3 separate regions of the Homo sapiens genome follow, and regions 1 and 2 are each reported to be linked to region 3. Evidence: microRNA targets listed by miRTarBase, many of them from high-throughput screens and not tested one by one. Region 3 holds a microRNA gene; each other region holds the end of a gene's coding sequence.
Evidence for each region. Region 3 holds the annotated microRNA hsa-miR-6827-5p (UGGGAGCCAUGAGGGUCUGUGC, at 2,022-2,043, opposite strand). A microRNA usually pairs through its seed, bases 2 to 8, with sites in the 3' UTR of a target mRNA and lowers its output. Matches are read on the target gene's strand: a 7mer-m8 pairs with bases 2 to 8, a 7mer-A1 pairs with bases 2 to 7 and ends in A, and an 8mer does both.

Region 1 (9,541 bases), not on the chromosome of region 3:
TTAAGCCCCCACGTGTGTAATTTGTGACACAGCGATAGAAAAATGAATGCACACACTGCTGGAGGCAGAAGGCAAGCCTCTGGAGACAACACGCATTGCTCCTTCCCTGGCCGGAAACTGTATTACTATTTTTTTATCTTCCTCACCCTTCCTTTCTCTCATCTTCATCCAACTTTAATTCATTATCTTTCTTGGTGTTTGTATTTGTGCCGTGAAGTCTACTTATGCCTCCATCACTCGATTTTCCAGGTAAAAGTCAAGAAATATCATTGAAGCCCGACAAACGGAGGAAACCAGTGCCTCTGTCCTCCCCAACCCGCTCCTCTTTCCCTTCCCCACTGTCTTTATCTCTTTTTGTCTTGTTTTCCTCTAATTTAGTCTTGAGGCCTCTCTCTGGAGAGGTCATATCCATGTCATCCACCTTCCAGGAGAGGCTGGACCCAGAGGAGAGTGAGGCTGGGGCGTGTGGCTCAGGTGGACACAGAGGAGGCAGCGGCACAGGACACATGGAATCAGAGCAGCGCACTCCTTCCAGATCCAGAGAGAGAGGGCTGTGCCTCTTGGGGCTGATAAGAGGGGATAGTCCAGAACACACATGCTAAACCACCAGTGGGGAGAGGGAGAGGGAGAAAGAGGGAGGGTGGGGGAGAGAGGGAAAGGGAGAGAGGGAGACAGGGAGAGAGAGGGAGAGAGGGGGAGAGGGGGAGAGGGGGAGAGAGAGGGAGACAGGGAGAGAGAGAGAGGGTGAGTGAGAAAGATGGAGAGGGAGAAAGGGAGAGAGAGACACCTGTGGGCCAAAGTCTTTATTGGGGTCCAGGGTGTTACCCAAGCAGCTTTCCCACAAGGGTTCTGATTGGTGGGGTTAGGACAGGCAGCCTCAAGGTCTCTGGTTGCCGACTGACTGAGAGGCCATCACTGTGGCCTGCCTGCATGGCCACACAGTGGGTGGGTCGGTCCAGCAGGCTGTTCCAGCTGTTCCACAGCGAGGTGGTCACCAGGAGGCGGTGGCACAAGACAGATGTCTGGATCGACCACACTGAGGAACTGGGGGAGTGCTGCAGGCACAGAACTATAAACTGTGGCCGGGCGCGGCGGCTCACACCTGTAACCCTGACACTTTGGGAGGCTGAGGCAGGTGGATCACCAGATGTCAGGAGTTCGAGACCAGCCTGGCCAACATGGTGAAACCCCATCTCTACTAAAAATACAAAAATTAGCTGGGCGTGGTGGCGGACGCCTGTAATCCCAGCCACTTGGGAGGCTGAGACAGGAGAATCGCTTGAACCCAGGAGGCGGAGGTTGCATTGAGCCGAGATCGTGCCGCTGCACTCCAGCCTGGCAACAGAGCAAGACTCCGTCTCAAAAACGGAAACGAAAACAACAATAAAAAAACTGTAAACTGTGTCGAGGGTGACGAGCCCTGCTTCTGGTGTGAGAGAGTTAAACTTATATTCAAAATGGACATCAAAGCAACAGGTATAAGAACTCACTATACTTCTTTACATTCGTGATTGCCTTCTGCAGGGCTTACCACAGCTGCCTAGCAGCAGCACCTCTCCCACCGCGTTGAAGACTTGTTTCTGTGCTTTCTCCAATTTCTTTCTTTCAAATCTGGTATTGAAGACATGGAATGCTCAGATACACAGACGAGGCTGCACAGGCCCATTCAAGAACCAGAGCGTCCAGAAGCAATTCACATGCTGTAAACCGGCTTTTCCTTTCTTCCCTTTGACTTTTTTCTCCTTTTCTATTTGAAGTCTTTTATTTTCACGAGAGTCTTGCAGGGTAGAAGTAATCTAAATACCTATGTGTCCGGAAAACATAATCTTTTTTTTTATAAAAATAAATATTCTGCACAATTTATAAAAGGCTAATTTCTGAAATTTTAAAATCTTCAGGTTATACTTCTTAAGCTATTCCGAGCTGTCTGTTTTCGAGGTTTTGGAGTACTGCTATGATGTTTTGGAGTACTTTCGAGGTTTTGGAGCACTACTAGAAGTTTGGAAAACTACTATGATGGCCGGGGGTGGTGGCTCACGCCTGTAATCCCAGCACTTTTGGAGGCCGAGGCGGTCGGATCATGAGGTTAGGAGTTCAAGACCAGCCTGGCCAAGATGGTGAAACCCCGTCTCTACTAAAAATACAAAAATTAGCCAGGCGTGGTGGCGGGTGCCTGTAATCCCAGCTACTCAGGAGGCTGAGGGAAGAGAATCACTTGAACCCGGGAGGCGGAGGCTGCAGTGAACTGAGGTTGTGCCACTGCACTCCAGCCTGGGCAACAGAGCGAGACTCTGTCTCAAAGAAAAAAAAGGAAACTATTATGACATGCACTTTTCTAATCATTGTACATTTCCCAGAGTAGACAAAAATGTTTGACAAAGCCTTCACTTTTAAGGAACGCAAAAAACTTAGAAATCTCTTTTGTTTGATTAAAACAAATAAAAAAAAGACTTGTTTCCAGAGATTCCGGTTCCACACTCTGCCCCAATCCTTGGGGCAGCTTTCCAGTCATCCAGCCGGAGTTTGCCCCTGGTCATTGTTCTAACAAGTGCTCCCTGAGTAACAGCCCCTGAGTCTTTTTTTTTTTTTTTTTTTTCAGATGGAGTCTCACTCTGTCGCCCAGGCTGGAGTGCAGTGGTGCAATCTCAGCTCACTGCAACCTCCACCTCCCGGGTTCAATCGATTCTCCTGCCTTGGCCTCAGAGTAGCTGGGATTACAGGCGCCCACCACCATGCCTGGCTAATTTTTGTATTTTTAGTAGAGAAGGGGTTTTGCCATGTTGGCCACGCTGGCCTCGAACTCCTGACCTCAAGTGATTCACCTGCCTCGGCCTCCCAAAGTGCTGGGATTACAGGCGTGAGCTACCCCGCCGGGCCGCCCCTGAGTCTTTACATGTGGCAATGCGTTAGTTGCTGCCTGACAAATGAGCAACTATTTGAGCATCAAACTCTTGGGTCTCTCTTGCCATGAAGACCTTGTGTGAATTGTTCATTGCCTTCTAGCATTGAGCGTTACTGGGGTAATGTCGAGTGTTACTGGAGTAATGTCTAAAGCAAACCTGATTGGTTTTTTTTCTCTTAAGAGACTTGTTCTTTCTGCTTGGATGCCCAGTGGATTACTTTTTATCTTTGAACTCCAAGGTTAACCATTCTTGGTTCATTTGGCGTGGGGTATGGTGTGCCTTTTTATTCTATTTCTGTAACCTTTAAAAAATATTTTAAAACATTTATCCTTCTCCGTGATTTTGGCTTTGTTTTCCAGACACTCTCAACTATCCATGCGTGTCAGTCTCCTCTGCACAATGGGGATTCTCTGAGATGCTTAACTTTATGCAGGGGGCCCAGTGCTGGCTTCTGGCCTCGGGGGATCTGCAACTGTGGCTCCCAATGCCAGGAGAGTGTTGGAACCGGTCCCAGGCCCAGAGAGGCCAAGACCCTGGAGACTGCCCCGGGGTTAGCTCCCAATATCTCCTCGGGCTTCGATTTCTCTTTTTCTGGAATGGGCCCTTCTTTCCAGCTCAGCTATGCCTTCTGCATGTTTTTTTTCAAGGATTTCTGTGTTGGCAGTGGAGGAAGAGAGGCCTCCATGTTAGCTCAGCCTGATATGCCACTAGAAACTGGCTGAGACCTTGTTGGTCTTGTTCAACATTGGATCTCAGGTAAGGAATCAATACAAATTGATTGGATAAATGAGAAAAATCAAGCACAAGCACAAAATTCGTATTTTTTGCAACACTTAATAGATAAAAGAAAACACCTAGGCTGGGTGCGACGGCTCACACCTATAATCTTGGTTTTTTGGGAGGCCAAGGTGGGAAAATCATTTGAGGCCAGGAGTTCAAGACCAGCCTGGGTGAAGTAGCAAGACCCCATCTCTACAAAAAATTAAAAAAAAAAATTAGCTGGGCAGGGTGGCACGTGCCTGTAGTCTCAGCTACTTGGGAGGCTAAGGCAGGAGGATTGCTTGAGTCCAGGACCGTGAGGCTGCAGTGAGCTAGGACTGGGCCACTGCACTCCAGCCTGGGTGACAGAGTGAGACCTTATCTCTTAAAAAAAAGAAAGAAAAGAAAACACCCAAAGTGGGTCAAGTAGGGATTGTATGAGTCCCGTAGAAAACTGCAACACATTCAGGGAAAGAGGGGGAGAGGGACAAGCAGGGGGAGAGAGAAAAGGAGCAGAAAGAAAAACAATCCAGAGCTTCCTCAATTCTCCCCCCACCCCTCCCCACTCCCTGCATATCAGCTTCCCCGGCGGCGGCTTTTCCATTTGGTTTCTTCCCGGGCATCGAAAAGGCACAGAGTGGGCCCTCGCTAGGACTGTGGAGTGAGTGGAAGTGATTCTTGCTGCAAAGCCATCGTGGAGAACTTGCCGCAAATGTGACTCTGAGAAGGACTCGGAAGAGGTGACACGAGGTCCTGAGGGTAGGCCCTAATCCAAGAGGACGGGGTCCCCATGAGAGGAGGGAGAGACCTCTGAGATGAGCATGCAGAGGCCTCAGGAGGAACCAACGCCCTCCCTTACTGCATCTCCAACTTCCAGCCTCAGAACCGTAAGAAAGGAGATTTCAGAGTTGAGGCAGCCGGGTCTGGGGCCTGAGCCACAGCGGTCACGGCAGCCTGAGCCAACCAGGACAGGGCGAGGGCAGGGGCGGAGCGAGGGGGAGGGGCGGAGCGAGGGGGAGGGGCGGAGCGAGGGGAGGGGCGGAGCGAGGGGGAGGGACGGAGCGGGGCAGGGACGGAACACCGGGAGGAATGGAGCTAGGGGAGGGACTGAGCTAGGGGAGGGTGGAGCGAGGGGAGGGATGGAGGGAGGGCAGGGACAGAGGGAGGGCAAGGACGGAGGAAGGGGAGGGATGTGCTCGCCCAGAGCCCCCATGCCTGGTAGAAGAAAACACTCAGTAAATGGGAGCTATTTTATTTTCTCTCAGAACGCAAGGCCCCATCACTTCTCCTTGATTCACCCTTCTGATCACCAGCCTGGGACACCCACTCCACGGTCAGCTGTCCAGGGGTCGCCCTGCACCCACACCTGCCTGCCACCCCCAGGGGGCCAGGAGCAGCAGGGAGGGCTGCGTGAGGAGGGTGGGGCCGGCCCTGGGAAGGGGTCCCTCCTGGAGACTCGGCTGACGTACCAGTGAATGGGGGCGAGGGCAGGTCAGATGGGCATGGTCCAGCCTGCACATCTGGGAGAAGGCTTGGCCCAAGGGAGAGGTTCCTGGGGTTGGAAGCTCCTGGAGAAGGGGGCATTTTCACTCTGCCCATCGGGTTCGCCTCCCAGCAGCCTCAGTGGGGCGAAGGCTGGCCAGGGTCCAGTCTGCAGGAAGGGTGGGAGACCCAGGGGCTGGCCTGAGAGGCAGAAAAGTCATCGCTTAGGAACTGGGTGCTGCCCAAACAGAAACGTGGACTCTGGCATCAGACCGAGCTGTGCAAGGGCCACGTGTGACCTTGGATGAGTCACTTCACATATCTCAGCCTCAGTTTCCACTTCTAGAAAATGGGCTGTTTCCTGGCCAGAGCTGTAAGGGGATCTCTGTTCTCTCTCATGGCCCTGTGGCAGGAGCTCCAGCAGCCACCGTGGACCACGAGGCAGCCACAAGGAGGGAAGGGCATGCTAAGGACGGGAGATCAGGGAGGAGGAGCCTCTGAGGATGAGGGATCAGGAAGGAGGAGCTTCTGAGAATGGGGGATCAGGGAGAAGGAGCCCCTGAGAATGGGGGATCAGGAAGGAGCAGCCATTGAGGATGCAGGATCAGAGAGGGAGGAGCCTCTGAGGACGGAGGATCAGGAAGGAGGAGCCTCTGAGGACGGGAGATCGGGAAAGAGGAGTCTCTGAGGATGGGGGATCAGGAAGCAGGAGCCTCTGAGGACGAGGGATCAGGAAGGAGGAGCCTCTGAGGACGGCGGATCAGGAAGGAGGAGCCTCTGAGGACGAAGGATCGGGAAGGAGGAGCCTCTGAGGACGGCGGATCGGGAAAGGAGGAGCCTCTGAAGATGGGAGATTGGGAAGGAGGAGCCTCTGAGGATGGGGAATCAGGAAAGAGGAGCCCCCCTGAGACCAGGGGATCAGGGAGGGGGGAGCCAGGGTTCCTGATGGCTCTGGGACCAGGGCAAGGCAAAGGAGCTGCTGCCTCTGGATGGTCCTCCATGAGGGGAAGGAGAAATAAATCTCTCATTTTCTATTTTGGTTTTCTCTATCATACACCACAGAACCCACCAAAATGGAGAGGTTTTTTTTTTTTTTGTTCTGTTTTGTTTTGTTTTTTTTAGATTCATGGTCTTGCTCTGTTGTCCAGTCTGGAGTACAGTGGTGCAATCACAGCTCACTGCAGCCTCGACCTCCTGGACTCAAGCGACCCTCCCACCTCACCCTCCCGAGAAGCTGGGACCACAGATGTGCACCACCATATGCCCAACTATTAAAAAAAAAATGTTGTAGAGACAGGGTCTCGCCATGTTGCCCAGGCGGGTCTCAACTTCCTGGGCTCAAGCCATCCTCCCACCTCAGCCTCCTACCTCAGCCTCCCAAAGTGCTAAAATGACAGGTGTGTGCCACTGCACTGAGGCTATTTTTATCTTCAATATACATGTAAAGAAACAGGGGCTCAAGAGGTACCCAAGTGATGGGGCAGGAATTAGAATCCCATTTGTATGCCCGATGCCACCTGGAGAATTCCAGGGCACCGCATGGGAAACCCAGGGTGCTGTGCCAGCCGGGAGGTGGCCATGGCACCATTACCTCCGTATCTCTCAGACCCTGCTGCGGTTGGGCCACCCTGAGATCCAAGCACCCCAGTCAGACAGACCCTGCTGGACTTAGGCGGAAGAATCCAGCCATTCCCTCCTCCCCTGGTACGAAAGGCTGACCACTCCTGCAGAAAAGAACTCAGGTTTATTTGCAAGTAAAAACCATGGTCTGAAAAAAACCCATTGGCAAATGTACAGTTTGTGTCCATTTGGGGTTCCCGCCAGCTGGGGGGGCCCCCAGATCCCTGACCCACATGCATCGGGCTCCCACATGTTCACAGCTAATCTCAGGCCCCTGCAGTTTAGCCCCCTGCAGGGGACACCCCGTCTCCTGCTGAAAACCATCGGACTCCCAGGCTGCACCCAGCCCTCCAACCCTCCTGCCTTAGTGCAGTGCAAAAACCAAACCAAACACAAATCTCAAAACAAAGAAACACAAAACAAAAAAATTCACAAAAACCAGGGTTCTAAATTATTTTTTCTCAGTGTCCTTCGTGATCATGATGACTTATTTGTCAACAAACTAAAATATACATCATTTTCTTGCTATTATAAAATCTCTTATTATTCACAGATATATAACGGGAGATTTGGATGAAATAATTACAAACTTTTTTCCCCTTAAAAAACAAACAAGCCAAACAAAACACAAACAAAACAAAAACCCCAAAACCAAAACACAAGACCTTTCTGACGACAGTAAACACAGGGGCTGCTGGCTTCCTCCCCGCCATCCTCCGCGCCTGCTGGGCCGCAGGTCGCAAAGTGCTGGGTGTACCCCGACACGGAGGCCCCAGGGTGCTCTCTCCAAGGCTGACTCTTCGCTTCCCCTGCCCTGCCTCCACCTCCCCTCATTTCCCAAGCCTTTGTCGAGGGCCCCTCTCTCCCCCTGCCGCTCCCCATCCCCATGACTCCTCCCGCCTCTTCCCTACACCCCAGAGGCATACAGCCCAGAGGCCACAAGGCCAACCTCAGAAGGAGCCCCTAGGTCCCCAGCGCCACCCACAGCAGGGACCAGCTTCCCCCACACCCAGCCTGGGCCGGGCACCTCCCACAGGCTGTGCAGCTGGCCAGAGGGAGAAGGGGCTACAAGAAGCCCAGGTCTCAACAGAGGCTTTGGCAAGGAGCTGGGAGGGAGACACTGTTACCAGGTCTCATGCAACATCAGGGTAGAGAAACCAGGGTCTGGCTAACCCAGCCAGAAGTCGAAGGCCAGGAGTTGTGGCTGGGGGAGGTAATGGGGTAGAGCCACCCCCAAGAGCACTTATTTTGAGTCGCCCGAGGCCCAGTTTGTAGGCTGCAGGGGCCCTTGGAAGGAAGCCCTGCCAGGGGCTGGAACCAACCTCTCGTGCCAAGGCTGGGCAGACCCTCAGGGACCACCCTTCAGGAGAGCAGAGGGGCCTCCTGGAGAGGGACCTGGCAGGGATCTAGAGAGGGGAAATCCCTGTTTTCTTCCCTGCCCATTTCAGGGTTTTTACAAAAGATGTACTGATCTGGCAGCGCGGCCAGGCAGACACCTTCCCAGGACTCCAGAAAGGGCCTCTCAGAGAGAGGGCAGGAAACGGTACCGCTGACCGGGCAGCAGGGTTGGAATTTCATCATTCCAAAGGCCCCTCCCAAGAGAGGGGCCTGCCGTGTGGGGTCCGGGTGTGCCCCTGGCAAGGAGGGGAGTGGGGGAGTCAGGGAAGTCTTGGGAGCCAGAGTGGCTGCAGAGGGCGACCACAGTGCTCTCTCCTCCCGCGCCCTAGCACAGTGGGGCAAGTGGGCCCACAGTGAACAGCCTGGCTCTGGTCCCGTCTGCCTCCCGAGGTCTGACACCTCCCCCTGGGAGCAGCAGGAAAAGACAGGCAAGGCTGAGTCCAGGGGCTGAGCAGAGGGTGTGGGGGCAGGTCCCCTCCGATGTCCCTAGCCCTTCCTGGGACAGCATCTGCTGTTCAAACCTAGGCTCCTGAAGGCCATCTCAGTTGGACAGGGGCAGGCGATGGGCCTCTGGCCTCAGCCACTACCCAGAGCCTGGCTCGCAGCGCTGTCGGTGCCCCCTCCTCTGCGCTCTGGGTGGGGCTAGCCCAGGTTTCCTCTATGTACAATAGCATACCCAGTGATGGGTCGCCGAGGGCAGGCTGACAGTGAAACGGTTCGAGTTTAGGATTCTCAACACCCTCCCTATCCCTGTGGGCAGTGGAAGACTGGGAGGTTGGTATTTCCCCTCTGAGTCACAGAGGAGCTAGAGACAGACTTCAGGGCTGGAGTGACTCTCCCAAGAAAATCTGCGAGTCTTGTCCACGTTCCTGCCGTCACTGGATGCCCTCCTCTTCTACGTACGTTGAAGGAAACCAGCCAATCTGAAAAAGATGGTAAGATCGTGTCTGTGTGTGTGTGTGTGTGTGTAAGCAGGTGTGTGCATGTCTATGTTGGGGTGAGGGCAAGTAGAGGCTCATGAAGATGGGGGGCCCTTCGGAAGTCCAGAGTTCTCAGAAGGACCTGGTGGAACCATTGCCTGGGAGTAAGAGCAACCCAGAAAAACACCACCCTTGGCCAGTTTAAGATGATCTGCCCACCCTCCAGCTGCCAGTCAGAAAAAAAATAAACCCTCCTGAGGAAAAGAACATCACCCAGAACAACTACAGCTTTTTCTTAATACACAAGCTTGGCATTCAGTCAGGACCAAATGACAAAAACCAATAGAAAAAGCAGACAGTAGAAATCAACCCACAGGTATTGAGGTCATCTGTCAGGGGAGATTAATAACTCTAATTCATACGTTTAAGAAAACGGATGAAAAGGCAGACAATTTTACC
Region 2 (9,728 bases), not on the chromosome of region 3:
CGATGCTGCCTTTCAGGAACCAGGTGCAGATGGGTCTCTTCCTTCCTGCCCCCATCTCTCTCACTCCTGGCTCAGTGCGGCACTCTCCAGCCTCCTGTGGGAATCATCTGAAGTTCTGAGCCCGGAAGCCAAGGAGGAAGACGAGGAGGAGGAGGAGGAGGAGGAGGAGGAGGAGGGAGAGGAAGTCAAGCCCTGAGAACCCTTGCACCTTCCTAGCAGGAGACAAGGAGCAACGCTGCGGTGGGGAGCAGGCTGTGGGGCCCCCACCCCCAGCCCTAGCCAGGCCTAGTGCCTGCTGTAGCACCCTAGAAGATCCCCAGCAGTTGGCACTAGCTGTACCCACCTTGCCTGGGGCCCCCGTGCTGGGGGTCGCCCCCAAGATGGTGGCGGCCCCAGGGAGGACTGTACTGCCAGCCCCAGCCTCTGGCCGCTAGGCACCCCCTGCCTTGCCCTGGCCCCTCACTCCGAGGCCAGCGCCATGCTGCGCCTGGGGCTGTGCGCGGCGGCGCTGCTGTGCGTGTGCCGGCCGGGTGCCGTGCGTGCCGACTGCTGGCTCATTGAGGGCGACAAGGGCTACGTGTGGCTGGCCATCTGCAGCCAGAACCAGCCGCCCTACGAGACCATCCCGCAGCACATCAATAGCACCGTGCACGACCTGCGGCTCAACGAGAACAAGCTCAAAGCCGTGCTCTACTCCTCGCTCAACCGCTTTGGGAACCTCACCGACCTCAACCTCACCAAGAACGAGATCTCCTACATCGAGGACGGTGCCTTCCTGGGCCAGTCGAGCCTGCAGGTCCTGCAGCTGGGCTACAACAAGCTCAGCAACCTGACGGAGGGCATGCTGCGAGGCATGAGCCGCCTGCAGTTCCTCTTTGTCCAGCACAACCTCATCGAGGTGGTGACGCCCACCGCCTTCTCCGAGTGCCCGAGCCTCATCAGCATCGACCTGTCCTCCAACCGCCTCAGCCGCCTGGACGGTGCCACCTTTGCCAGCCTCGCCAGCCTGATGGTGTGTGAGCTGGCCGGCAACCCCTTCAACTGTGAGTGCGACCTCTTCGGCTTCCTGGCCTGGCTGGTGGTCTTCAACAACGTCACCAAGAACTACGACCGCCTGCAGTGTGAGTCGCCGCGGGAGTTTGCCGGCTACCCGCTGCTGGTGCCCCGGCCCTACCACAGCCTCAACGCCATCACCGTACTCCAGGCCAAGTGTCGGAATGGCTCGCTGCCCGCCCGGCCCGTGAGCCACCCCACGCCCTACTCCACCGACGCCCAGAGGGAGCCAGACGAGAACTCGGGCTTCAACCCCGACGAGATCCTTTCGGTGGAGCCGCCGGCCTCGTCCACCACGGATGCGTCGGCAGGGCCAGCCATCAAGCTGCACCACGTCACGTTCACCTCGGCCACCCTGGTGGTCATCATCCCACACCCCTACAGCAAGATGTACATCCTCGTGCAGTACAACAACAGCTACTTCTCCGACGTCATGACCCTCAAGAACAAGAAGGAGATCGTGACGCTGGACAAACTGCGGGCGCACACTGAGTACACCTTCTGCGTGACCTCGCTGCGCAACAGCCGCCGCTTCAACCACACCTGCCTGACCTTCACCACGCGGGACCCCGTCCCCGGAGACTTGGCGCCCAGCACCTCCACCACCACCCACTACATCATGACCATCCTGGGCTGCCTCTTTGGCATGGTTATCGTGCTGGGAGCCGTGTACTACTGCCTGCGCAAGCGGCGCATGCAGGAGGAGAAGCAGAAGTCTGTCAACGTCAAGAAGACCATCCTGGAGATGCGCTACGGGGCTGATGTGGATGCCGGCTCCATTGTGCACGCCGCCCAGAAGCTGGGCGAGCCTCCCGTGCTGCCCGTATCTCGCATGGCCTCCATCCCCTCCATGATCGGGGAGAAGCTGCCCACCGCCAAGGGGTTGGAGGCCGGGCTGGACACACCCAAGGTAGCCACCAAAGGCAACTATATCGAGGTGCGCACAGGCGCCGGCGGGGACGGTCTGGCTCGGCCCGAGGATGACCTCCCGGACCTCGAGAACGGCCAGGGCTCGGCTGCAGAGATCTCCACCATTGCCAAGGAGGTGGACAAGGTCAACCAGATCATTAACAACTGCATCGATGCTCTCAAGCTGGACTCGGCCTCTTTTCTGGGAGGCGGCAGCAGCAGTGGGGACCCCGAGCTGGCCTTCGAGTGCCAGTCCCTCCCTGCAGCTGCTGCCGCCTCCTCAGCCACTGGCCCCGGGGCCCTGGAGCGGCCCAGCTTCCTTTCGCCTCCCTACAAGGAGAGCTCCCACCACCCACTACAGCGCCAGCTGAGCGCCGACGCGGCCGTGACCCGCAAGACCTGCAGCGTGTCGTCCAGTGGTTCCATCAAGAGCGCCAAGGTCTTTAGCCTGGACGTGCCCGACCATCCGGCCGCCACAGGGCTGGCTAAGGGCGACTCCAAGTACATCGAGAAGGGCAGCCCCCTCAACAGCCCGCTGGACCGGCTCCCGCTGGTGCCGGCGGGCAGCGGCGGGGGCAGCGGCGGGGGCGGGGGCATCCACCACCTGGAGGTGAAGCCGGCCTACCACTGCAGCGAGCACCGGCACAGCTTTCCCGCCCTGTACTACGAGGAGGGTGCCGACAGCCTGAGCCAGCGCGTGTCCTTCCTCAAGCCGCTGACCCGCTCCAAGCGTGACTCCACCTACTCGCAGCTCTCCCCCAGACACTACTACTCAGGGTACTCCTCCAGCCCCGAGTACTCATCCGAGAGCACGCACAAGATCTGGGAGCGCTTCCGGCCCTACAAGAAGCACCACCGGGAGGAGGTGTACATGGCCGCCGGTCACGCCCTGCGCAAGAAGGTCCAGTTCGCCAAGGACGAGGATCTGCATGACATCCTTGATTACTGGAAGGGGGTCTCCGCCCAGCAGAAGCTGTGACCCCCCCCTTCCTCCCTGGTGAGGTCGGAGCCAGAGGGCTGGGGGCCTTTTGGGGGAAGGGTCCAGGCGGCCAGGGCGGGGAGCAGACTCGGGGGCCAAGGCCCAGGAGAGGACGCACATGCAGACCCGCACGCACGCACGCACACACACACCTGACCACCACCCGACTGTGAACAAACCAACATCCGACAATAACGGACAGGAAAACAGAGACACATTTTCCTTAAAGTTTACAAACTGATACCGAAACCAGTCGTCTTTACTGTGCTGCCCAGGGACTCTGCTGGGGTGTGCAGGGCCGGGGGGCTGGCGGGGGGAGGAAGGAAGCCAAGAGAGGGTGTGGGGTCTGGGGGGTCTGGGGCTAGAAACAGGTGTGGGGGTCAAGAAAGCTGGAGTAGAGAGGGACTGAAGCCCCTCTAGGGCAGGGAGAGGGTCCCTTCCCAAGCTGGGAGTCAAGTCACCTGCAGATTTAGCATTAGACATCGGGCAATGTCTCCTTCCACTTTAGAGAGGGGGGGAAACTGAGGCCCAGAGAAGGGAGTTGACAACCCCAGGGTCACACAGCAGCTTAGCCTCAAGTCCCCCAACTTCCCAGCCCAGTGCTGTCCCGGAACCCCCTGCAGCTCTCTTGTGGACCCCTGCCCGCCCTGTGCCCACCCCACATCCCTTTCCGAAGCTGTGGTCCCTTGGGGCTGAGGGACTTGGGAATCAGGCAGGTGCTTTTTCTTCCTAGAAAGCCACATGGCAGTGCCCCCAGAGTGTGCAGCTGTGATTCAGAATCCTGGGGGGCTTTTGACCCCTATGCCGGCACCCGGGAGAAGGGAGAGGGTCCTGTTGACGGGAAAGGAGCCGAGGCAGGGCGACATTCCACCAGCCCACTTCAAGTGTCTTCCACGTGGCCTGGGAAGAGTGGGGCGTGTGGCGGGCAGGCCAGCTCCCAGGACGTCTCAGGTGCAGGCTCCCGGCCCCAGCTTCTCTGGTCCTCCGAGACCCCTGCCCACCGCAGAAGGGCAGCGGTGCACTGTGATGCCTGGAGGGCTGCAGGGAGGAGCTGTCATGGGGGACTTCCTGCCTGTCCCCATGGCCTGTGTCCCCACCTGCCCGACCCCATCGTGGGATCTCGGCTCCTATCTCAGCCGCCCACCCGGGGAAGGAGGGCTTTCTCACCCATCCCCTCTGGGCTGCTCATCCAGGCCTGGCCCCCTGGCCAGAGGGGCTCCCATGTTTCCGTGGCAATGGCCACTTCCCTCTTTCTGACCCCCCCACCCAACATCAAACAAAGCACAAACAGTGAGGCCCCCACCCGAGAGAGGGTTGAGGAGCAGGCTGGGTTCGTGGCGCCCCAGCCCCTCCCAGCCAGCCTCTGTCACCATGGTAACCCTGTGCCTGGCAGTTGGTGCCCAGAGTGACCGTTGGGCTCTGGGGTTCTCTGTCCATGTAGGCGGTGGCAGAGGGTGGTGAGGGAGGGCCAGCCTGGCAGCAGCTCCTGGGGCCAGCTCTTTTGGGAGGCAAATCTGCGGTCCTGAGACTGGGGTCTTGACCAGTCAGGATGCTGATGGGCCGGAGTCCATCATCCTTCACCTCTGGGTGGGAGCTGGCCCAGCGGGGTGTGGGGACGCCTCTACTAGCAGCTTTGCCCGCCTAGCAACATGTCGCTTGGCTGCCACCCACCTCAGCTTGGGGGGCCCCGGCTCTCCCCACGCCCCTGCCAGAGACCCCCAGTCTAGGGCCTGTGGCCCACATGGGTTTCCTGAGATTTGGGGAGTGTGACTGAGGGGCGAGGGTAGGCACTGGAATGGGTCCAAGACCGGCACTGTTGGTGGGCAGGGGCTCTGACCAGGAAAGCTAGTGCCATCCCCTGGGGACCCCAACGACCTTCCTGCTGGGGGCAGGGGGTGAGGGAGGACAGCAGAGGGCTAGGAGGCTCGGGCTCAGCTGAGTACCTCTCTCACACCAACTTTGGGGTTAACGAAGCCCAGGGCTCACTTTGAGGGTGACATTTGCAAAGAAAAGACTGTTCTCCTGGGGCGAGGAGGGGAGGGGGCGGCATGGATACGCGGAGCAGACCTCCTCCCCCGGCCCCCAAAACCTGCCCCCCAACCCCTCCTCACACCCCCTTGGCACAACTGAGAAAAGCAAGCAGGCAGAGAAGCCAGGGGTGTGAGGAAGCAGACTCCCTGTTATATTTGCATGACGATTTTACTGTATTTTTCTGAGCAAACATCTGTCGTGTATGTGCCAGTTTGTCCAGACTCCCCCGCCCCCTCTCTGATGCCCTGCTTTCCCACATTCTGTCTGTTGTGATCTGACGAGCAGCTCTTGAAACCCAGGGAGGGGTCAGCTCTGCAAAAACAGACCCAAAACAGGTGCCACCAAGACACAGCCCTGCCCCACACCCACCTCCTGTGTTTCTGAGCATTGGGCCCATGTGCCACCTCCCTTCCTCCCTCCCTCTCTCCACTGCCACCTCCCTTGTCCCCAGTTCCTTCCCCTCCTCCATGCCAGGGAGGGCAGCCCCAGGGAAGCCTCCTCAAGGGCTCTTGTCCCGGTGGAAGGGACTGTCTGTCCGTCCCGCTTGTTCCCGTTTTGTAGATGAGGAAGTCAGGGCTCCCAGACGGGCCTGGTGAATTGGCTGGCCAGCTGGGGTGGAGGATCAGTCACACTGCTGAGTGTAGGAGGCCAGGAGCTTGGGGCTTCGTGGGGGGCTTCAGGGAGAGGGTGGGGGCTTTGAGAAAGGAACCCGTGGGAAGAAGGAGCACGCCTGGGCTGGGCCCCAGGGAGGGTTCCCAGCAGCAGGAGTTAGGGGCCTGCGCTTGCCATTTCCCCATCCTTTCTGCGTGAAGATATTTAGGAAACCTCAGACTCTCTGACTGCAGGGACAGGGGCCCTTCCAAAGAGCAGGACTCTGATGATCCAGGAGGGGAACTGGCCTTGAAGACCCAGTTCATGTGGTTCTTTGTGAGGCAGAGCGGGGTCTAAGACTCGGGTCTCTGGCCTCCCAGCCAGGCCAGAGCCCCAACTGCTCAGCTTGGGGAGAGCCCACCCGGAGGCTGGCCTGCATCTGTGTCCCACGTCCTGCTCAGGATGAGTTTTTCCCAGGCGGGAGGGAAGTATTCACAAAATGTTGCCATCCAAGGTCTGGGTTTGTGATGATGATGAGCATGGTGGAGCTGGGCTGTGGTCTGGGGCAGGCCAGCAGGGCAGACACCAGGAAAAGAGGGCAGGGGGGGCCACAGGGAGGGAGGGGAGATGGAGGCCCGGTGGAGCGAGGGATGTGTGGGTGCCACGCCCTGGACCTCTGCGGGGAGGCCTCCTGCCTTGGGCCGGAACAAGGTCACACCTGGGCTTGCCTGCCTCTGTTGGAGAATCTCCTCTGAAGCTGTTTCTGGGAAGTAGCACAATGGGTCTGCTCCTTCCTGGGAGGGCACAGCAGGTGCAGCTAACCCTCTGTTGGAGCTTATGGCCTTCCAGTAGCAAAACACAGAGGTCTGGCATGAAGGCAAGAAAGCCTGGTTGGTGGGGAAACCTCGTCACGGGTCCCGGCCTTGCTTTTCCCCGCGGCAGGAAGAGTCTCTCTCTGCCCACCAAAGAATCCCTCACCTGGGCTCCCCTCCTGAGGCAGTGCAGGAGGCCTGTGGGAGCAGCCTGTGTCCAGGCTGGGGAGCCCGTGTCTGGGTAGGTCTGGGAAAAGGGCTGTCAGGGGAGCGAGGAGGGTGGGAGTAAAGAGACCTGCTTGGGAAGGCCAGGCCTGGATCGTCCCCGGGAGGCAGCTGGGGCAGCAGCAGTGGGGAGTATCAGGCTGGCCGAGAGTCACCCATGTTCTCAACTGGAAGTTGGTCGCCTGCCCCACTCCCTCCTGGAAATGTAACAGCGGGGTGAACAGAAGTGCAGAGACGGAAAGGAGAGGAAAGGAGACCTAGAGCTGACAAACTCGGTTGTGACAGTGCTGAGGCCGGGATGGCATCAGGAATTAAGGACACCAGTGACAGGTCCTAGCTTATAAGGGGCCTAAGTGCAGGGAAGGGATAAGACACAATGCTCCCTAGTGACTGGCGCCTTGCAGAAAATTAAAATAGGGTGATGGGGGAGGGGCAAGGCTGGTCAGGGAGCATCCTGTGTGGGATGGGGGGACAGGGAGCCAAGCTGTGAATGACAAGAGGAGCCAGAAGGGTGGGTGGGTGGGTGGGTGTGAAGACGAGACTAGAGGGAGTGGGGTTGCAGTGGCTGCCTGTCCCCCAAGCACCGCCTCTGTCCCCTACTACCCTGCCCCTGCCCATTCCTGGCCCAGCAGAGCCCCCTTTCCATGAGTGTGGATGGGCGGGGCAAGCCGTCGGGGAGCCTGGGGAAGCTCAGCCCTGAGGGGCTTACTTTGCCCGTGGAAGCCAGTGTGAAGGTTAGGGCAGCCTTGCCTGGCTGGCCCCATTGCCACCTCTCCTGTCTGACAAGGTGGCTGCTCCAGAGGTGGCTGAGCCCCAGGAGAGGGGACCTCCTCTAACTCTCATGCTCAGATTCCATCCTGACACACTCCTTCCCTGACCCTGGGTGCCCCTTCTAAGACAAAACCAGGGTCCATACTGCTTGCCTCCAGAGGCGGCTTCAGGCCTCACTAAAGGTCAGGCAGTCCTGCTGAGCAGGAGGGAGAGGAAGGGGGTCCTGTAGGACGGGCAGGATGGTCTGGGCCTGCTCCTCCTTCCTCTGCCCCTCTGCCACTCCACACTCCAGCACAGGGCTGGGACAGGGGCTTGGAGTTCCTGCAGTGGCGGCCACACTTCCCTCCCTCCCTCCCTTCCTCAGGAGCCGCCAGTCCCCAAGTTGGCTGTGGTTGGGCACCTGGTTTGGGTCCTGCAGAGCTGGGCTCAGGCCCTGGGCTCTGAACCTGTGAACCCTTGCTGTGTTACGAAACTTTCCTTCCTCTGAGGGCCTTGAACCCTCTCCTTTTCTTCTTTTGGGGGTGGGGGTTAACTTTATTTTCTCTTCCCTGTATCTGCCTCTCCCTTCCCTCAATTTCCTGTTTTAAAACTGAATGGCACGAAATTGTTTTCCTCAACTCGGAGATTCCTGTATGGAGAGAATCAATTTCTATATTTGCAATAAATTTCTTATTTAAAGCTACGGGGCCATGGTCTATGCTGTATTCCTCCCACATTGCACTGCCATGACGCTCGGTGCCCTTTTCCCCATTTCCCTTCCCACTGGGAGCCCCAGTCATGGGGCTAAGGCTTAGTGGACAGGGTGGGGGTCACTGCCTGCGGTCAAGGAAAAAAGAAGGCGGTCTGCCAGAGAGAGGGAGAGGGGGCCAGCAGGAAACTCAATTCCAGGGTCAGTGTGCACCCAGACACTGCGCCGTCTGATGGGTTGGGGGCCTGATGACCTCCCTTCCCAAAAGCCTAGACATCCCTCTGTTGTGTGCTGTCACTCGATTTTCTGCTGCCCTGGCCTCCCACACCCGGGATTCAGAGCCCTGTCAGAGAGGCAGGGCCATGTGGGGGCATTACTAGACTTCAGCTGCTTCCCGGGAGAAAAGCCCCCCATCAGTGACCACGGTCTCTGAGGTCAGCCTCTTGCTGCCCCTGTCTATGGTGGGTCCAGTGTCTCTGTGGGACCCACTGGGCCTCCTCCACGCCTGGCCTGGGCAGCCTGTCCTGGGCCCCTGGCCCACCCCTCCTCTGGTGCCCTCCCGCCATCTGCTGCGGTTCTTCATGGCTGGGAAGCGATCCTCTCTGGTCCTTCGGGGCTTCTGCTGCTTCTCAGATTTAGGAGATGCCTTGTCTCTCTGGTCAGGCTGAGGCACTCAGGTCAGCGTCCAGTGGACTGCAGGCTGAACCGCCCAAGCCTCTGCTCGGGGCCAGTCTGGGGCCTACCTGCTAGCCCCAGCCTCCTTGCTTCCCAGAGGCAGAGCCCACCTACCATTTTCCCAGACTCTTGTTCTCCAATTGCTACGAAACTCTCCTCCACGAAAGCCTGTATTCAGCCTGGATTGCTATGGGGTATTCTGGACTCTGTGGGTCTGAGCTATTCCCTGATATCACCCTGTGGCCTTCAGCCCAGCCCTAGGTCTTCAGGAGCTGTGTCCTAGTGGCTCTGGTGGCCCACAGGGCTTTCCTGCCCCCCTGCCTGCCTCCATTAAGAGTTGGTTGTACTCTGGGGACCCTCTGGGATGGCCCAGGGCCTGGGGCCGCTCACCTTCTACTGCCTGAGCCCCAGCTGGACGCCTGTCCCTTCCACGTGCCCTCACACAGGCTCAGTGCAGCCGTCCCAAGGGGGCCACAGCCAGCCAGGGTCCCTCCTTTGCTCTGCTTCCTGCCAGTCCCAGGCCTCCTTCGTGAGGGAGGTTTCACTGTGAGCCTGCACCAAGGGAGGAGGAGGAGGACGGTGGGACACATTTGTGGGAGGCGCAGAGAGGTAGGGCCTGGGCCCTGACAGGCTCTGTCCCCTCAGGCCCCTCAGCTGGGGCTGCCCTATGGTCCCCGGACCCAACCCTGGGCTCCAGGAGCCCCTGCTCAGCTGCCTGCCTGTCGCACTGGGTCCCTGTTTTCTTCATCAGCAGGAGCTGTTTCTGTTGAAGGACTCATTCTACTCCTCAGGAAACTTAAGAGGTGATCAAAGGGGTCAACGAACCTCGAGAGTCCAAGTCCAGGCCCTTCCCCTCAGCTGCCTCTGCCGGCCTTGGGCTGGGGGAGCCCTGTGGCCCCTGGGAGTGTGGAAGTGTCCTCCGGGATGGCTTTGCTCCGGTGGGTGGAGATCCGGCAACAGTTCTTAGGCTTAGAAAGTCACTTTTATTCCCTAA
Region 3 (9,555 bases):
ACTCTGAGCAAGCAGCTTGGCCACCATGTCCTGACTGCCGGCCTGGGCCTCCTGTGTCTTGCTTGCCAGGCGGCGATTTGCAGATTCCAATCTCTCTGTTTCAAGGGAAGGAAAGATGTTTTAGTGTCAGGTGAAGCTGCCAGCTTGGGATTTTTCCTGACGTCCTATCAGGATGGGGCTGTATCCTCCATATTGGGGATGGGTTCATAAGGAAACCCCAGCTCAGCTCAGGGCCCCATGGGTGGGAGCCTCCTCTGTCAAGAGCCATCATCCCTGAGGGGATCCTAGGCCCAGTACATAGAGACAAGCATCTCTCTATCAGGGCAGCTCCAAAGGGGTCTCAGCCTGGCTCTCTGAGTTCATCTGCACTTTTGACAGAGAATAGAGATTCCCAATTTTTCTCTAGAACAAAAGAAGTAAGTCCTCTGCAGAGGTTCTCCAACCTCCACCTGTGTGACTGGCTCTCACCTCTAAGATCCCGGTTGAAGTCTTGCAGCCTCCTCATTTCACTGTCCATCTTGTTCCGCATGGTCTTCTCCAGGGCCTCACGCTTGGAGGAGGCTCTGGTCAGGCTCTCATGGGCCTCAGAGAGCCGCTGGATTTCGCTTTCCAGCTGCAAGAGTCAGACAGCAGAGCTGAATGAAGGCGAGAGCTCCCAGGGAGTGATTCGAGGCTGACCCACTACTCTCCATCAGAAAAGGTGACAGATGAGAGGCCACCAAACAGGAGCAAAACCTCCAGGTGACTATGGTGGGATGGTCAGAAGCTTGTAGCCTCCGGAAGTAGAATAGACTGCTGGGACCAGCAAGCAACGGTCCCATCGGCTGCCCCAAGGACCAGATGCTGAGTGAACCCAGGGCCAGGTACTTTGGAAGTAGCTGCCTGCGGGGTGACTAAACACAGCTTCCCTGTGCCCAGTGTCCAGAAGGAAACATTCTACTCTTGGCTGGCTTCCACCAAGAAACTGAGTACAGTTGGCCAGAAGTGGGCACCGAAAGACTCCAGCCATGATGGGGTGGTTTGACCTAACTTGGACACCACAGGACAGTCAAGGGAGGCCTGAGGCCATCTGCTAAAACTGAGCCTCAGCGGAAAACTGGTAACCCTTCACTAAAGAAGCGGGCACCAGGCAGAGCTGCCTCTGCCTGGTGTCCCAGGCATCACCATCCACCCAGAGGGCCAGCTGGGCCCCGGCTGCTCCTCCCACTTGGCTGCTGGCAGGTTCCGCACGTGCTCTTAGCTGGCCTGTGATTCCAACAAGTCGCCCATTTTTTTTCCAAGAGGAGAAGTTTTCTTTTTGGCCAGGGCTGGCCTGGAACAGACTTGCTGTTGTGTGGGGGACACAAAGGGCTCTCTGTGGGAGGTGTCCATGGGAGGGGGTGTGTGCAGGGCAAGGGTGCGAGTGTGCAAGGAGCTGGTGAATGGGCTCTTTCTAATCACCACTGGCCAGCAACTGTTCATGCTCCAGGCCTGCTCTGCCGGCCTCTCGGCTGTTCCCCAGCTGTCTGGAGTCAGCTCAGGAGGGTGCATGAGGAGTGAGGGAGGTGGAAGACAGAGGGATAGGGAGAAATCCAGCCAAACAGTTTTCAGGCTCCTCTGCCTCTCCTTGGACTACCCACTCCCCAGGTAGCCCCTCGGGGTCTCTTTCTGGTCTGCCCTTCTGAAGCCCCAGCAGGGCCTACCTTCTCAATGCGGCCAGCCTTCTCCGCAGAGCTCTCCAGCTCCCTCTGCAGCCGCTCATTGTCTCTCTGCAGCCTGGCATTCTCCCTCAGCACGGCCTCCATCTGGGCCAGGTGGGCACTGCCCGAGGTGGCTGAGGAGGCCTGGGCACTCACTGGCCCCTCCACAGCAGGTGGACTGAGGGAGCTCAGGGGGCCATGGCCGAGAGCAGCTGGATGTGGGGGAGGGGGGTGCTCCTGAGATTGCTGCAGGTACTGGTACTGCTGCTGCTGTTGGAGGAACACAGGAGGCACCTGGGCCTGCAGGATCCTGGGGAACAGAAGAGACGGTGCTCAGAGACAGCACAGACCCTCATGGCTCCCACCAGAGCAGCCCGGGGTCACCCCACTCCTAGGCATACTGGGAAGATGGTTAATTATTATCAATAATTAATATATTATTAAAATTACTGCAGATAATTATTCAACCCTCTAGTGTTAGGCAGGGACCAGTAGGGAAGGCCTTTTCCAAATGTTTCTGCCTGAGGCTCTCAAGAGTCAGACAGCAGGGCTAGAGGGGATTAATGTCAGGATGCTTGTTTCATACCCGCCTCACAGTGGCTGGGGCCTTGGGGATCAGCCTGAGCAATCCTGGGCCTCCTAAGCAACTAATGCTTAAATACATCATCTTAAAAAATGCACCCTGACACTTCTAATCAATGGAAGGTTATTTTTGGGGCTGGAGGCCATGTCAATCATGACTGAGCATATAACCTTCCAGGCCCCAGGACAACTTTGGTGGCTGGGCCCCAGCAGCAACCTTGTGTCTATTACACGAGTCGCCAGTTTCAAGACTGCCAAAGCAGCACTCATTTTCTCCTTCCTATTTCAAGTCCTGCCACCCCCCACCCCCCACTCACCCAGAGTCATTTTTAGAAGACTCCAGTTAAGGTTAGAGCAATGAGACAAATGTCAGGGTAAGAGTCTGAGCTCTAGAGTCTGACAAATAGGGGTTCAAATCCCTGCTCCAGCTGTTTAACCTTGGGCGAGTGCCTCAGCCCCACAGACTGGGCATTGCTCTGTTGCATCATGAGGGTCTCCAGCCTCGCTGGGATTTGTTGAGGATGACGCTATGTAAGGCCTGGCAGAGTGCTGGGCCAGTGCTGGGCGGGTGGCAGGTGCTCCTATAATGGTGGCCCATCCTCCATCTCTTCTAGTAGGAGCCTCAGTTTACCCTCAGTTTAGAGAACAAATGTGGCCCAAACTCTTGGTTTCCTTGGGAGTAAGGGCTGCCTCTGGACTACTGTGGTCACTGAGTTCAGGGGACAATATTCTATTGGCCTCTGGCACTGGTGTAACATCACCCCCAGGGCTCCATGTTGAGGGAAGGAGCAAAGGGCAAGAGGCACGGGGAGTCCAAGGGCCTTCCTGGGACCTTGTGATTCCCAGTGTCACAACTGCCTCAGTTTCACAAAGAATCTTCCAAGTCCCAGAAGCCCCGCAAAAACCGAATTCCCCTTCTGGGTGCATCATCTCAGCACTAATGCACACCCAGCCTGCCCCTGACTCTTGCTGCCATGCAGCCTATGGCCCCCCTGCTCTTCTCAGGACCCTAGGCTAGGAGTCTAGCCCGTTTCCTAACAAATAATCTTCACTGGATCATCTGAAAGGAGATATTGGGCAGATGTATTTCTCCTACTACCTAAGGTGGGGCTTCCAGTAAGAGCTGGGAAGAGGGTCCCCACTGGAGTGCTCAAACTCTCCATTCCACTGCTAAAATGGCCATTCTCAAGGTTGCTTCAAGAACTTGCTCCCCCCTGCACTGGGCCAGGCAGACACAACTGGCATTCTTTGGGGATGACTTAGCTCTGAGAAAGAATAGCAACTCCTTTCCCTTCACACTTGCTTTCCTTTCTCCTCGTCCTCTCCCTCCCCTGCTTTTTGTTCTCCTGCAAACAGTCTACTTCCTTGCCGTGATTACTATCTTTTCCTGACAGGGTTCAATAAGGCTGGTCCAAAAGAAGAAACCACCACTCAGCTTCCGAAACTCTTCCTGACCGAGCCCTGAGAGGGGCGATAAAGTGCGAGTCTGGAGGGGTGGAGGCTGGAGAAAAACTATGAGGCTCCAACCTCTGGTTCCGCCATACCAACCCCATCATGTCACTCATTTCTCGAGAGCAAGGAAAGCCGGACGGTGGGAAAGTGGGTGTTTACTAAAGGAACACAGCAGGCATGAAGAGAACCAGACTTTGACCTTGGGCCACCAGAGGAAGAGTCTGAAATCCTTGGGGTCCCTTGGTGGGGTTTCTTGGACTCCCATAGGGGGAGATGCAGCAGTGATGGCTGTGTCTGCTTCTCTGGAAAAGATGCTGGGCAAGATGAGAAGCGTGAGGCAGGGCCTTGTTTCTAGGAACACTTATTTCTCCAAACTCTCTAGACTTCTTGCCTCCCCGGGTCTTCCTGCTTCCATTCTGGCCCCTTACAAACCATGCTCTGCATGTAGCCAGAGAGAGCATTTAGAAAAGGTAAACCAAATCACATCCCCTGAGGGCCTCCCAGCACACTCAGAATCAAACTCTAAGTCCCTACCATGGCCCAGCAGCCTCTCCTGAGCCTCACCAGAAAAGGGCCCACTTGGACCCAGAATCCTTTCCCACTGCAGGCTGCAGACGCAGGGAGCATATGGCAGGAAATGAAGAGGAGAGACAAGTAAGCTCCTGCCCTGGTGTAAGATGCTGAGAGGTCTCTAATCAGACCACTGGGCCTTTCCAGCCTCTAGTTAGGAATGCCTCCCAATAATCACAGAAAGCAAGCTGCTCATATTTTCTTAAAAAATCTCCAGAGAAGGAAGTCCCACCTTCTTCCTGCTTAACTTGGAAACAGTTTGGCAATCATTCCCAACCTTGCCTTTAGGAAGTTCTTTCTGAAATCTAACCTTTAACCCCCTGCTGCAATTTGTGTACTCTGGGGACTCTAGTTACTTGAATGCTACAGCTAAGCAGACAATGGTGCCTATCTCTGAATTAAGGCAAGGGACACCACTAACTTCTTAGGGGACCTCAGCTAAGTCCCTCTTCTCTGCCAGGCATTAGCTCTCCCTTCTCAGGTTGGAGGTGGGGTGGATCTTGCTAGCTCTGACACAAGCTGTGATCTTGAGGCTCTCCTCCCTGAGAGACCTGTGCTGGAAGAAAGCCAGGAGTTGGAAAGCCCAAGGTGGGGAGAGTTACCTGACTTCAGCATGCTGGAAGTGCGGGCTGCCGCGGGCACGGTACCGTGGGTCAGTGACAGCAGTGGTGGTCTCATGAGCTAGTACAACATGAGGGTACTGAGGTGGGGGTCCTCGGGACTCTGGGCCCTCAGCAGGGGGGCCCCTCAGTGGGGGGCCCTGCTGGTTGCGGGCCAGCTGTGGGAAGCTGTGGGAGGAGCTCATGTGGCTGGGGGCCCGGGCGCCGTTCCTCTCCAGGGACAACTGAAGGAGCCGTTCACTCAACGAGCGCACGTGCCCATGCCTCAGCTCCCGCAGGGCCTCGTCCTGCCTCCGACTGCCTCCCGGGGCCCCACGGGGATCTCGGTCCCCCGCATGTGGCCGGGTCCCTGCCTGCTGGGCCGCATAGTACTGCGAGTGGGCTTTGGCCTCCTCATAGGTGGGCAGCTCCTCTCCCTTGCTGGGCTGTGGGCATAGCCGGTAGAGGGTGTTCTCTGCCAGGTGGTTCTCACCGCCCTGGTGCTCCTGGCCCTGGGGCTCCTGCCTGGTGGCCTGCTGCAGCACCTGACTGTCCTCTGGGGCCAGGATCTCCAGGGAGGCCTGGGGGCTCCCTGTACCCCCAGTTCCAGCCCCACCCCTCAGGGCCTGCTGCTGGATGGCTAGCAGCGTGCGCGTCTCAGTCAGGTTGCCGTAGCGCAGCTGCTCCTGGATGAGGCGGTGCAGGACTGTCCCCGAGGAGTCTTCCAGTGTCCTCATGCTTCTTTGGCTTGCACACAGCTGCCTGGACAATGGCCGGTGGCACCTGGCCCCAGAGCACCTGGAGTGGGGTGGGGAGAGAGAGAGAGAAAAGCAATCAGTGGGAACCCATGGGAAAGGAGAAGGCTTTCCAGGATTTCCATTATTACTCTGGTGGAAAGCATAAAAGTGAAGAGCAGGGGTGGGGCGGTTCACACAAGCCTGGGTTCAAGTACCAGTGCTGCCATCTACTGATTAAGACAAGTTACCTAATCTCTGAGCCTCAGTTTCTCCACCAGAAAAATGCAAAGAATTCTGCTTGACTCATGGAGATGAGGAAAAAAAAAGAGGCAGTGGCCTGCGAGCTCCTGGCACAGTGAAAATCCTGGTAAACGATTACTAATGATAACATTCATGGAGACTTACTATTCCTGGAGAGAGACAACAGGAAACCAGAAGATAACCCACCAGGAACCACCACCCGTACAGCCAGCTACACATCAAACAGCCTGATGGGCAATTCTAAGGCAGGCCTAGTTCAGATCTAACCACTTAGCTATTCAGTCTAGGGGTGGATGGGGCCCCAATTTATTGGCAGGTGATAAAGAATGCATGCAGTCCAGTAGAAGCCCTAGGCGAAAGGCCTCTAGGACCCTCTAGACTGAGGCATGCCAGAGTCCAGCCTTGGTACAGTCAACCTACCACCCTCTAGACTGAGGCATCCCAGAGCCTTGGCACAGTCAACCTACCACCCTCTAGCCCGCTGAACCCCTGGCCACTTTTCCCACTCTCCCTGAACCAGAGAACTCCTGGAGGATGGGCTTGGGCTCTGCTTCATCAAGCGCTGCTGACAGAATGAATCTGGGGCTCCCTGTCATGGGATGACCTTGGCAGTCATTCTGCAAGGTGAACAGGAAGAAGGAGTAATTGCACCTGAATTGGTGAATAAAGGATGAATAAAAATGCTTCAAGAGGACAATGGTTTTGTAAGATGAGGCAAAAAGGTGCCACCCATTAAGGTTAGTGGGTCAGTCTTTTGTGCTGACAGTAACTGCAAGAGAGCTCCAGGAAAAAGGAAGGATGGCATGATGTCTTTGATTTTATGATTATCCTCCCCAACACACACACACACACACACACACACAAACACACACACACGCTACTTGGAAAAGCCCCCACTGGTCCTCTAGGCACATAAGGGATGGGCACTCAGCATCTTTCTTGACATCAGTGTCAAGGAAGCCCATCTTGACTTGGGCCAACTGGAGAAGTAAGGGGAGGCTGTTGGTTGAGAGACCTGGGGCAGGGGAGAGGGGACTGTGAGCCTAAAGTGCTGGGAGATTATATCGGAGAAAGGAGTTCCCTTCTAAGCCTGGGCTCCCAGTGGTTCATGGACTGGAAATCTGCCTGCCTCTCTCACCCAGCTTCCTTTCCACAGCCTCTTCCAACACAAATCTCCAAACTGGGATCCAGGGAAAACTAAACAGAATCCACACTGCCACAGGTCCTGTGTGTATGGGCAGGGGTTGGGGGGGTGGGTGGGAGGAATGTGGCCCCTCCTCTGCCACTAAACTAGCCCTAGTGTCCTGCTTCAGTTTGGGCTATGGCATGTTGGCAGAGCAGCCATTCCCGATCTTTTCCCTCTCCCCACCCCAGTACTCCAGCTGCCCAGAGCTGGGGAGTGGGGGATGAGTCTGGAGGGCACCTCTGTACCCATCCTTCCTGGCACCCAGTCATGCGCCCCCCACACACAACGAGGGGTAGATGTGCAAGACTCCAGAGCTACCCGAGGCAAAGCAAGCAAATGGGATTCAATTCGTATGGGATTCAGTTCGCCCTGGAGTTTTATCTGCGGGCATTTCCTATGATAATCACTCTCTGGGCCGACTCCCACAGAGAAGGCAGGGGAGCGGCAGGAAGGAATGCGGAGCCTTCCTGACAGATTCCAGGCGCTCCATAGTGTGCCCGGACTGGGAGCAAGGAACATCTCCAAGGCCTCTCATCGCGAATTTGTCCCGGCCAAGCCCCTCAGATTCACGTCCTTTCAGACATCAAACGCCTGGGCCTTTACAAAAACCTGCTTCCGCGCCCCCGGCCGCGAACCTCTGCTGCACTCGCCCGCTGCGCTCTCTGAAGGCCGCCTTTCTAAGCCAGCGCGCGTCTCCAGCCTTGGCCTGGGCTCCTGCTCGCCTAAGGAACCAAAGACAGTCTCCAAGCTAGGAGGTTCTGGCACCCCAGCCAGGGCTCCCGCCCCACCACGAGCCCGGGCGGACCTGGAGCACCGGTGGCCGCTGGTACGCCTGGGGCGAGCCGGTGAGGGTAGCCCGAGGCCCGGAGAGGTCTTTAAGCATCGCGGGTCCGCCTCCCTCCCTCTCGAGCCCTCTTTGTTTTCCAAATACTCTAACGCTGACGTCACCGGGCTGGACAGCAGGCTGCATTCTTTCTAAGTGAGGGCCAATTCGTGGCTCCAGAGAGGATTTTCCAAGGAAGACAAAGAGGAATTCTTGGACTAGTTGGGGGCAAAGGCACCTGTAACCCCCACCTAACCAAATCAGCCCGCAGGACCCTGCAACTTGAGCTCCAAGCGGCGCCTCCATCCCTGTCCCCCGCCACCCCCACCCCCGCCGACCTGCAACCCGAAACACTGTGGCTGTTGTCTCCGGAGTCGGCCCTCTCCCCTCTCCCCCAGCCCCAAGAGACCCGCGCGTTTCTAGAGCCCCGCAAAGCCCAGCGCGCTGCGCTCCCTGGGCAGAGCGGCCCTTGCCAGGCACTGCGGCTGCCTCGAAAGGGCGCACTGCGCCCCGAGGACGCTCGATCCTCGAGGCTCCGACTCCCGGAAAAGGCCGGGTTGCGCCGAGACTCCAGCTTTGGCTGGGGCACGTTTCTGTGGCCTCGCGCGCTCTCCCGAGCGCCGAGCGGCCTTCCTTACCGCTGCGGCCCGAGGGTGCCCAGCGCAGTCAGACACCACAACCTCCGGCTCGGCCCAGCTCAGCTCGGCGGCGAAGATGTGTTCTCGGCCGTGGCGCCGACGCTCTGGCTGTTCGCGCCCCAGCGCGCAGCCCCAGGGTCGGCCCGCGCCGGAGGCGGCTGCTATGCCAGGAATGTGAGAGTTTCAGGTTCCCCCTCGGGATCAAAGCGAACCACAAATAACCTCTCAGCGCACCGCCCTCCTCCGCCCTCCGCCTTCTCCCGCTCCCTCCTCCCGGCCCCCGCCTTCCTCCGGGGAGGCGGCGCTGCTGGCCGAGCGCCGGCCCGGCCCCCGAGCTCCGTTCCTCCGCGCCCAGCGCCCTCCAGGCCGCGGTGTGTCCGCCCCTGCCCCATGCTTTGCCTTCGGAGCTGCTGGAGACAATTTAATCCAACTCTGCCCATTATCGCCTCCACTCCCAGTCGCCGACCCGCTCTCACCCTTCATCCCTAAACCCATCGACGGGACGACAGCAAGGGCTGTACCACGCGTGTCCTGGGGTTGCTGCGGGAGGGGACTCCGGCTGTGTGTGTGTGTGTGTGTGTGTGTGCGTGTGTGTGTACCGGGGGAGGTGGGAAAGGGAGGAGGGACTGCAAAGACATCCATATCCTCTGGGCTGGGACAGTGCCCCGGGCTAAGTGAATGCTTCCAGCCACAGAGCCTCTTTCCCCTAACCCCCGCTGTTTTCACCCCCAGCGGCAACCTTTGAATGCACTTTTGTTTACAAACACCTTCGCCAGCTATTTTACGACCGTCTCGACAGGAAGTGTGAATCTGGGTTGGAAAATCCGGTCAATTTGACCCACCTACCCAACTGAATCACCCGCCGCCAGGCGCTCTGTCCAGTTCTTCCCCAAGGTGATAATAGGCGCCCCTTTACGCAGAGTGCAAGGTGTGCCACCGCTGGCTTTTCGCCCAGTCATCCGATTCAGCCCTGCCAAGCACCCTCCAACGGAGTTCTGTTATCATCCCTGTGTTGTAAATGAGGACAC

Region 1: the mRNA of VAV2 is a reported target of hsa-miR-6827-5p. Seed matches in the 3' UTR shown: 7mer-A1 at 8,569-8,575 and 8mer at 8,435-8,442.
Region 2: miRTarBase lists ELFN2 as a target of hsa-miR-6827-5p. Seed matches in the 3' UTR shown: 7mer-A1 at 3,875-3,881, 7mer-m8 at 3,898-3,904, 8mer at 4,156-4,163, 8mer at 5,547-5,554 and 7mer-m8 at 6,545-6,551.

Annotation. Positions count from the first base shown.
Region 1 is chr9:133,755,025-133,764,565 of GRCh38, forward strand. VAV2 (vav guanine nucleotide exchange factor 2) reads right to left here. Exons shown (of 30, transcript NM_001134398.2): 30 at 6,870-9,085. The coding sequence ends at 9,038. Among named protein-coding and RNA genes, the nearest start is that of SARDH, 21 kb to the left of the region's middle.
Region 2 is chr22:37,366,285-37,376,012 of GRCh38, reverse strand. It overlaps ELFN2 (extracellular leucine rich repeat and fibronectin type III domain containing 2), which reads left to right. Exons shown (of 3, transcript NM_052906.5): 3 at 17-8,053. The coding sequence starts at 479. The coding sequence ends at 2,941. Among named protein-coding and RNA genes, the nearest start is that of ELFN2, 56 kb to the left of the region's middle. RefSeq lists an enhancer at 7,009-7,975.
Region 3 is chr3:134,365,815-134,375,369 of GRCh38, forward strand. It overlaps MIR6827 (microRNA 6827), which reads right to left and starts at 2,048; the gene lies at 1,990-2,048. AMOTL2 (angiomotin like 2) reads right to left here and starts at 8,633. Exons shown (of 10, transcript NM_016201.4): 1 at 8,528-8,633; 2 at 4,886-5,680; 3 at 1,683-1,989; 4 at 469-613; 5 at 3-95. The coding sequence starts at 5,619. RefSeq lists enhancers at 7,893-8,692, 8,693-9,492, 9,493-9,555.